Homo sapiens: one gene and its partners. The protein of the gene in region 1 interacts with the protein of each later gene in a pairwise test. Each region holds a gene or a part of one and is shown on either strand. Other genes may lie near its edges.

Region 1 (3,656 bases):
TGTTTCTCCCAGAGGGGGTTTGGCAGGGTCTTAGGACAATAGTGGAGGGAAGGTCAGCAGACAAACAAGTGAACAAAGGTCTCTGGTTTTCCTAGGCAGAGGACCCTGCGGGCTTCCGCAGTGTTTGTGTCCCTGGGTACTTGAGATTAGGGAGTGGTGATGACTCTTAACGAGTCTGCTGCCTTCAAGCATCTGTTTAACAAAGCACATCTTGCACCGCCCTTAATGCATTTAACCCTGAATGGACACAGCACATGTTTCAGAGAGCACAGGGTTGGGGGTAAGGTCATAGATCAACAGCATCCCAAGGCAGAAGAATTTTTCTTAGTACAGAACAAAATGAAGTCTCCCATGTCTACTTCTTTCTACACAGACACAGCAACAATCTGATTTCTCTATCTTTTCCCCACCTTTCCCCCTTTTCTATTCCACAAAACCGCCATCGTCATCATGGCCCGTTCTCAATGAGCTGTTGGGTACACCTCCCAGACGGGGTGGTGGCCGGGCAGAGGGGCTCCTCACTTCCCAGAAGGGGCGGCCGGGCAGAGGCACCCCCCATCTCCCGGACGGGGCGGCGGCAGGGCGGAGGCGGACCCCCACCTCCCTCCCTGACGGGCCGGCTGGCTGGGCAGGGGCTGACCCCCACCTCCCTCCTGGACGGGGCGGCTGGCCGGGCGGGGGCTAACCCCCCACCTCCCTCCCGGACGGAGCGGCTGGCCGGGCGGGGGCTGACTCCCCCCACCTCCCTCCCGGACTGGGCGGCTGGCCGGGCGGGGGCTGACCCCCACCTCCCTCCGGGACGGGGCGGCTGCTGGGCGGAGACGCTCCTCACTTCCCAGACGGGGCAGCTGCCGGGCGGAGGGGCTCCTCACTTCTCAGACGGGGCGGCTGCCGGGCGGAGGGGCTCCTCACTTCTCAGATGGGACGGCCAGGCAGAGACGCTCCTCACCTCCCAGACAGGGTCGCGGCCGGGTAGAGGCGCTCCTCACATCCCAGACGGGGTGGCGGGGCAGAGGCGCTCCCCGCATCTCAGACGATGGGCGGCCGGGCAGAGACGCTCCTCACTTTCTAGACGGAATGGCAGCCGGGAAGAGGCGCTCCTCACTTCCCAGATTGGGCAGCCGAGCAGAGGGGCTCCTCACATCCCAGACGATGGGCGGCCAGGCAGAGACGCTCCTCACTTCCCAGACGGGGTGGCGGCCGGGCAGAGGCTGCAATCTCGGCACTTTGGGAGGCCAAGGCAGGCGGCTGGGAGGTGGAGGTTGTAGCTAGCCAAGATCGCGCCACTGCACTCCAGCCTGGGAAACATTGAGCACTGAGTAAACGAGACTCCGTCTGCAATCCCGGCACCTCGGGAGGCCGAGGCTGGCGGACCACTCGCGGTTAGGAGCTGGAGACCAGCCCGGCCAACACAGCGAAACCCTGTGTTTGGTGGAGACCAAAAAAATACGAAAACCAGTCAGGCGTGGCGGCGCGCGCCTGCAATCGCAGGCACTCGGCAGGCTGAGGCAGGAGAATCAGGCAGGGAGGTTGCAGTGAGCCGAGAGGGCAGCAGTACAGTCCAGCTTTGGCTCGGCATCAGAGGGAGACCGTGGAAAGAGAGGGAGAGGGAGACCGTGGGGAGAGGGAGAGGGAGACCGTGGGGAGAAGGAGAGGGAGAGGAGGATTGCATTTTTTAAAAATTGGAGGTACCATTGATTTAATAACTTTTCAGTCAAAAAAGACTACACAAAATACATAAACTTTTATTTATTTTTATTTATTTTTACTTTTTTTTTTTTTTTGAGATGGCGTCTCACTTGTTGCCAAGGCTGGAGTGCAGTGGCGCAATCTCAGCTCACTACAAGTTCCACCTCCCAGGTTCAAGCAATTCTCCTGCCTCAGCCTCCCAAGTAGCTGGGATTACAGGTGCCTGCCACCACGCACAGCTAATTTTTGTATTTTTAGTAGAGACAGGGTTTTACCATGTTGGCCTGGCTGGTCTCGAACTCCTGACCTTTAGTGATCCATCCGTCTTGGCCTCCCACTGCGCCCGGCCATAAACTTTTAAACTAAAGCATGATCTATCGATACATTGCAGAGCTTCTTTCCTTTAGTATCTGAAGGTTTGAGTCAAAGCTGTTTTCCCATCTGGAATCAGTTGCCCATTTGGCTATCCGCCCGAGCGTTGTGGTTTCCTCTCCTGTTCCTGGCCTGCCTTTGTGACTCACTCTGGAGATCACCTTCGAGGTTAATGGCTTGTGGAAGAGTTCCAAGTTTTATCTCTGTCCTAGTTGGTTAAACATCATTTTCTCTTTTTCAAGCAAGTGAAAAGCTTTCAATAGATAGATGTTTATTTCCTAAGCACTAAATGACTCATAAATTAAGTCCCTGTAGATTTGGAAAAACTCCTTAAACTGTATCTAGAGGTCTAGCACTTCCTAGTAGGATAGACAGTCCTTTCTAGATACTGTAACTTTTTTCTGTACCGCTTTGGAGTACAGTCTTTATGAAGTTGTTTGTAAGCAAAAGGGAATAAAATTTAAGCCTAAAGGCTGGGCGCGATGGCTCACATCTGTAATCCCAATGCTTTGGGAGGCCAAGGCAGGTGGATCACCTGAGGTCAGGAGTTCAAGACCAGCCTGACCAACATGGTGAAACCCCATCTCAAAATACAAAAAATTATCTGGGTGTGGTGGCGGCCGCCTATAATCCCAGCTACTCTGGAGGCCGAGGCAGGAGAATCACTTGAACCCAGGAGGTGGAAGTTGCAGTGAGCCGAGATTGTGCCATTGCACTCCAGCCTGGGCGCAACAAAAAACTCTATCTCAAAAAAAAAAAAAAATTTAAGCCTAAAATTCAACCCTGTTACTACAAGTGACTTACCTGAAGTTGCAGTCTGCTGAACAGGTATTTTCCATACACAGCTACGTTTCTCTGTAGACAGCAGTGACAATTCTGTTTCCGTTCATGCCTCTGCCTACCTGCTGGCACATGTCTTTCAATAGCAGCAGTATGCTATATCCTGATTTCACAAATCTTAAAATATGCTAAAATGGGTGTCTTAGACCCAAGGAACTGTAAGTCTTCTCTGGAGGCCTAAGGCTGCTCTGTCAGTCCCCATATCCCCGGGCCAGGCCACGTGAAGCACCAAATCCACTGGGGTCCCTTTTGCCCCTACAGGTCTCCCTGTCTTCCTGCCTCTGTGTCAGCCAGGAGCTCATCTTCTGTGGCTGCACAGATGGGATAGTCCGCATCTTCCAGGCCCATAGCCTGCACTACCTCGCCAACCTGCCCAAGCCACACTACCTTGGGGTAGACGTGGCACAGGGCCTGGAGCCCAGGTACTGCCCTGTGGGGAGAGGGAATGGGAGGGGCCCACCCAGAGTCTGTCCACTGGCATTCATCCATGCTTCCAGATCCATCTATCTGTCTGTCCATCCCACAAATACCCATCATGACTCTCAGCCCTGGGCATTACAAAGCAGAAAAGTCCTTGCCTTCCGAGGCAAGCCTCACAGTGAGAAGTGAGGCTGGGTAGGGGGAAGAAACAGTGAGAAAACAAAGGAATAATATCATTTCAGATAGCGGTCAGCATGGTGAAGAACAGTGCAGAGCAGGTGTGAATGTGGCGGAGTGTTTCCATCCACATGGCTGACCCCTACTAAGTGGCTGCT
Region 2 (2,393 bases), on another chromosome or scaffold:
CAGCTGTAAAATGAGAGGTTGATCTGGATCAGGGATAGTAAATGGGCCTTTGTTCAGTTACTGACTGTTGTATAACAAACCACCCCCAAATTTAGTAGCCTTAATAAACATTTATTAGCTCCTGAGTGAGTGGCTTGGCAGTTTGGGCTGTGTTCAGTGTGGTGGTTCTTATCTCATCTGGGCCCTCGTGTGGCTGAAGTGAGCTGGCAGATCAGCTGGGGACTGGCTGGTCTCAGATGGCCTCGCCCGCCTGTCAGGTGGTTGGCTGGGCAACTGGGCCACACGTTCCAGCATCTAGCAGGCTGACCCAGGATTCTAGACATCATGGCTGAGTTCCAAAAACCGCAAGAGAAGACAAGCCCAGTATGCGAGTGCTCTTGAGGATATTGCTATGACGTATCTTTTGGCCAAAGTAAGTCACATGGCTAAGCCCAAATTCTTCTTAACAGGAGGAGCTTCAAAATATGGCCATATTTAAAAAATCTACCTCAGGACTCATTTCACTTGCCAACTCAGAACTTTTAGTAGCAGCTGCCTGGAGTGCCTTTTGAGGATCTGCAGCAATTTTCAGACTGTTTGGAAATACTGACATGATAGTTTGGCAGTTTCTCTTATGAGCATGGAATTCAAGTGTGGGCACGTGAGCGTCAGGTATTTGCCATCCCTGGCCAGGTTGACCCGTAAGGTCATAACCTGCCCCATAGGATGTTATATGCAGTAGGCCTGTCTGACAAGACCACAGAAATAGAGAAGGCAAAGCAGAGCAAAAGATTCTGAGCCAGGCATCCTTGGTTTTCATCCCAACCAGATCATTGATTGATTGAGGTTTTAGGCAAATCAAAATCCCTCCACCAGTAGCCAGATTCTTCATAATAAACTTCCTCCATAACAGTAAACCATTTCCTGAACACCTGCTGTTAAAAAGCACATTTTACATTTACTTAATCTCCACAACCACCCTCAGTAGGTGTAGTAAGGACTTCTGGTTACAAGTTACAGAAACTGAATTCAGTCCTGCTTAGTGGGAGGAAGTTTATTGGCTCACAAATTGTAAAGTCCAGGGATCTTCAGACATGGGGACTTGGGTTCAAAAGCTGCCATCGAGAATCCGGTTAGCCAGGCATGGTGACACGTGCCTGTAGTCCCCGCTACTTGGGGGACTACAGTGGGAGATCATTTGCACCTAGGAGGTTAATGCTGCGGTGAGCCATGATCCTGCCGCTGCACTCCAGCCTGGGTGACAAAGCGAGACCCCAACTCAAGGGGAAAAAATCTGGTTTTCGGGCAGGTTCCAAGAAGTGGTAGAGCATGGCCATAGGGCCTGTGAGAATAGAGGGACAGAGGGGAGAATCCCCAAAAGGAGAGCAAGGCTTGGCTAACAAAAACAGGCATCCACTGTGTGGTTATGTCTATTCTATAGATTTTGTAGATGAGGTTTAAAAGCATGGCCCCAAGTAAAGGTGGCATCTCTATCCTATCCTCGCCTTTATCTAAACTCTGTGACCGATCAATAGCATATGATGGTGGTGGTGCTCTGCCAGTCTCCCAGTCCCAGACTGAAGCACTAGCAGCTTCCACTTATTATCTCTTGGGACTCTAGCTCTTGGGACCCAACCACCATGCTGTGAAGCAGCCCAGGCCACACAGAGAGGCCACGTGTACATGTTCAGCTGACAGCAGTATCAAATGTCAGACATGAGAGAGGAAGGCTTCAAGATGACTCCAGCCCAGCCACCGTCTGAGAACAAAGTAAGAACTGCCTCACTGATGCCATTCAAAGCCCAGCACCATGAGAGATAATAAAACGTTGTTTGAAGATGCTAACTTTTGGAGTGATTTGTTGTATCAGTAGATAACCAGGACACAGGCCCACAGAGGTTCAGTAGCTTGCTGTGCTTCTCAGGGGGCTAGGTTAAGAGTATAGGTTTTGTTGCTGGGCGCGGTGGCTCACGCCTGTAATCCCAACACTTTGGGAGGCCAAGGCGGGCAGATCACGAGGTCAGGAGACCGAGACCATCCTGGCTAACACGGCGAAACCCCGTCTCTACTAAAAATACAAAAAAATTAGCCGGGTGTGGTGGCGGGCGCTTGTAGTCCCAGCTACTTGGGAGGCTGAGGCAGGAGAATGGTGTGAAGCTGGGAGGTGGAGCTTGCAGTGAGCCAAGATCGCGCCACTGCACTCCAGCCTGGGCGACAGAGCAAGACTCCGTCTCTTGCTGACTCTTACCCATATGCCTGCATCTGTCTACCCTCTTTTCTATGTACTTGCTCCCTGGATGACTTCATCCGTGGCTTCAGACTCCACTCATGGCTCCATAATCTTCACCTCTAACTCATTTTCCTCCCAAGAACACCAGGGGAGTAGGTACAGATGCCCATCTAATAACTGTACT
Region 3 (3,656 bases), on another chromosome or scaffold:
AAATCACTATTTTGTTTTAATATTTATAAAGTATTTCATGTAGGACTTTATAATTGCATGTATACAAAACTTTTTAATGAATCCATTTAGTAACATTATTCCCTTCTGATAATTAGCAAACAATAGGATAAGGAAGTAGCTGTGTATCTACAAACACATGAGTAATTAGTGGTACAAACAAAATTATAATCCAACCCTTCTTTATTTATTTGCACTTGATCTATTAAAATCTTTGCTATCCACTCAAATTTTGTGCTTTTATAGGTGGATAATAGAACATGGCAAGTTGAGATTCCCAGTTTTATTTCCGGCTTTGCAATATTTTCACTGGGGTTTGGGCTTATAATTTCCATTCTCCAAAACTTCACTTCTTCTCTTGTTAAAACAGAATGGTAATTTCTGCCCCTTCCTTTCCTCCTTTGCCAGGGTGATGGTTGTGGTTAGAAGCACACTGGGCTCCTCAGAGAAAGATGCTTTGGGAGCATTAGAACAATTCAGCATCTCCTTCTGAGATGCATTGAGAGTCATGCAAAGAGGCCAGCAGGCCACGGGTAGCTCTGCCAATGCATGGGGCATCTTGCAGCCAAAGTGGGTACAAACAGGTGGGCACAAACAAGACACAAGATTTATTGGGTTTCCCAAGGGCCCTGTGGGAATCCAGTCTAGAGCCAAAGTCTAGAGTCCCTCTGCGCCATACTTCTTTGCTCTGGGTCTAGGCCAGTTAGGAGATTTGAAAGATCTAGTGGAGCCAAGAATGAATTAGCTTCCAATTCTCTGGGGAAGAATAGGTTGGGTCCTTTTGCAATAGGCTTTGGCTTTCTGGACTTCTCTTTCATTGCACTTATCATATTTTGTTGTAAGTGATAATTTAATGTCCTTTTTCTCCATTAGACTCTAAACTCTGAGAGGTCAACCTGTAGCACAGTATCTGGTACATAGTAGATGTTCACTGAAGATTTACTGAATGGATGGGTGAAAGAATGAATGAATGAATGAGGCTTCATCTTCGCCATATATACCATCACAGTATCCCAGAGCAGCCATCTTCATGATCCCTTGGCCTAAGAGTTTTAAGTTCCACTTTGCTTCCCAAAACCCTTTGCACCTTCAGATCTACCAGGATCAAGTCAGTCTTTTAAAAAAATACCAGGTAGTCTTCTGGGAGTGAGGGCCTTGCATCCTCCTGTGTGTTGACATGAGGAGTTATTCAGGAGATCCACTTGCCCATCCTGTGCAGCAGTGAAGCTGGAGGAAACCTTGGTGGCACTCCCTGGGGCCAGTATTTGTTAATCCCTATTTTATATTCCCTGCTCTGATTTCTTCCAGGCCCAGATAATAAGAGGATGGCCAGGAATGTCTTGAAATATGAAAGGCTCTTGGCAGAGAGCCCCAACCACGTGGTAGCTGAGGCTGTCATCCAGAGGCCCAATATACCCCACCTGCAGACCAGAGACACCTACGAGGGGCTATGTCAGACCCTGGGTTCCCAGGTAGGATTCCTCAGGGAAAGAGAAAGGGGGAGAGGCCTGGCTAGAGTTTGAGAAGCTAGAATTGGGATAACATGAGGGGATAGAGCTGATGCATTAAAAACAATAAAGCTCACTTGGGCAGCATCAGAGTGACCACATTCTGTATCTCTTGCATTCCAATTTTTTTATGCCATAGTTCCCCTAAGTTGAGTTTTGCTCCTAGACCCTTCTTCTCTTATGCTCATCCTATTCTTTCCTTCCAGCCCACTCTCTACCAGATCCCTAGCCTCTACTGTTCCTATGAGACCAATTCCAACGCCTACCTGCTGCTCCAGCCCATCCGGAAGGAGGTCATCCACCTGGAGCCCTACATTGCTCTCTACCATGACTTCGTCAGTGACTCAGAGGCTCAGAAAATTAGAGAACTTGCAGAACCATGGGTGAGTGTCCTGAGAACCCGCCAAGAATTTCTCTTTCATCTTCACATGCCTGGAGTTCAGGAGTGTAAGAATAGGCAACCTGAACAACTAGACACCTCAAAGAGCCAAGGAGTTCAGAATGCCAACCATTCCATAAAACTAGTCCATGGTGGAAAAAAATCACAATAGTGCTTGCCTCTAGAGGGAAAGGATTAACTGGATGATGTACAAGAGGATTCTCTGGGGTATTGAAAATGTGCTCTCAATATCTTGTTAGGGACGTGGTACATGTGGCTGTATGCATTTGTCAAAACTCACCAAATGGTCCACTTGAGACCTGTGTATATCATTGTATGTAAGTTTAACCTAAAAAAAGACAAATAAAAAAGAACACTTCAAAAGTGTCAACCATTCTATGTAATTGGTAGAGGTGGGGAAAAGGGTGAAATGACAGCGGCAAGGAGTAAAATCCTAGCACAAATTTACAGAGTTAGAGTAGAAAGCTAAACTTCATTATTTTGTTAAAAAGGAAACCGAGGCCCAGAGAGGGGAAGGGACTTGTTAAGCTCATACATGTAGCTAGAGCCACAGCTAGAACTTAGAGGTACAGTAGTCCCCCTTATTTGCAATTTTACTTTCTGTGGTTTCAGTTATTCTCAGTGTAGTACAATAAGATATTTTGAGAGAGAGAGGTCATTTTCCCATAATTTTATTACAGTATATTATTATTATTATATTTTATTGTTAATCTCTGTGCCTCATTTATGAATTATAAATTATAACATATAATTATAAATTAAACTTTGTAATTCAGTTACAATCATTATTATAATTTCGTTATAAAAAGAACCAAAGGAGGCCAGAATGATCAGGGCTAGCGGGCCCAACGAAGGTGCAGGGCTTCAACTGAGTCTCCAAAGATGGGCAGAATGTGGCGAGAAGTGTTGAGTGAGTGTGCTTTGGGAAAGGGACAGTGACTAGGAAGCAGATATTCAACACAAGCCACTGAGGCATCTGTCTTCAGTTTCCATGGGGGAGCCACTACCATGTGAGCCCAGGGCTGATTCCTGGGAGAGCCACAAACCAGACAGGCATCAGCAGCCCCAGAGAGATGCTTCTAGGGGAAGGAAGTGTGCCAAGGTCTGTGCATGCCAAATGGACGACACGGCCATGAATGACTAAATAGACATCTCTGGGTGGGTCACTTCTCCCATTACCATGGCAACAGGGCTGTTTTAAGGAAAAATTTAGTTATAATGTAATTATGATTATAATTAAATTACAATCATGATTAAATTAAATTACAATCATGATTAGATTAAATTTTGATTGAAGCCATCCCACTGTCTTCACTTGGAGACCCAGCCTGACAGAGCAGCCTCTGTATGGGACATTGCCAGTCTCATGGAAGAGGAAAAAGACAAATGGCAAACATGAGCTGGTTCATAAAGCTTCTGCATGGAAGTGCCAGATGTTACTTCCACCCATGTTTCACTGGTCAGAGCAAAGCATGTGGGCACTACTGCAGTTAACAGCAAGGTTCTAATTCTTCCACAGGGAAAGCACTGCAAGTCACCAAGCCAAGCTGGATGTCAATGGGAAGAGGACATTTAATCCTCCCCCTAGGAAGTGTGCTAAATATTAACAAGAAAAAATGCACCTCTATAAGCATGTTGCCTCTTTAAAGATATTGTCTCAGAATTATTTCTGTCAAGCCAGACATTGTGCCCTTAACATGTGCAGTTCATCCAGGCAGCCATTAGTCATT

What was found.
Region 2: the proteins of WDR62 (region 1) and RALY interact in a two-hybrid assay, tested with the Homo sapiens proteins (one large-scale study listed by BioGRID and IntAct).
Region 3: the proteins of WDR62 (region 1) and P4HA3 interact in binary tests that used the Homo sapiens proteins (3 or more experiments, as listed by UniProt).

Annotation. Positions count from the first base shown.
Region 1 is NC_000019.10:36,068,394-36,072,049, forward strand, and holds part of WDR62 (WD repeat-containing protein 62), read left to right. Parts: intron 1-3,162; coding exon 3,163-3,323; intron 3,324-3,656. UniProt on the Homo sapiens protein: Required for cerebral cortical development. Plays a role in neuronal proliferation and migration.
Region 2 is NC_000020.11:34,083,061-34,085,453, forward strand, and holds the end of RALY (RNA-binding protein Raly), read left to right. Parts: 3' UTR 1-1,824; downstream 1,825-2,393. UniProt on the Homo sapiens protein: RNA-binding protein that acts as a transcriptional cofactor for cholesterol biosynthetic genes in the liver. Binds the lipid-responsive non-coding RNA LeXis and is required for LeXis-mediated effect on cholesterogenesis.
Region 3 is NC_000011.10:74,284,062-74,287,717, reverse strand, and holds part of P4HA3 (prolyl 4-hydroxylase subunit alpha-3 isoform 1 precursor), read left to right. Parts: intron 1-1,326; coding exon 1,327-1,490; intron 1,491-1,732; coding exon 1,733-1,909; intron 1,910-3,656. UniProt on the Homo sapiens protein: Catalyzes the post-translational formation of 4-hydroxyproline in -Xaa-Pro-Gly- sequences in collagens and other proteins.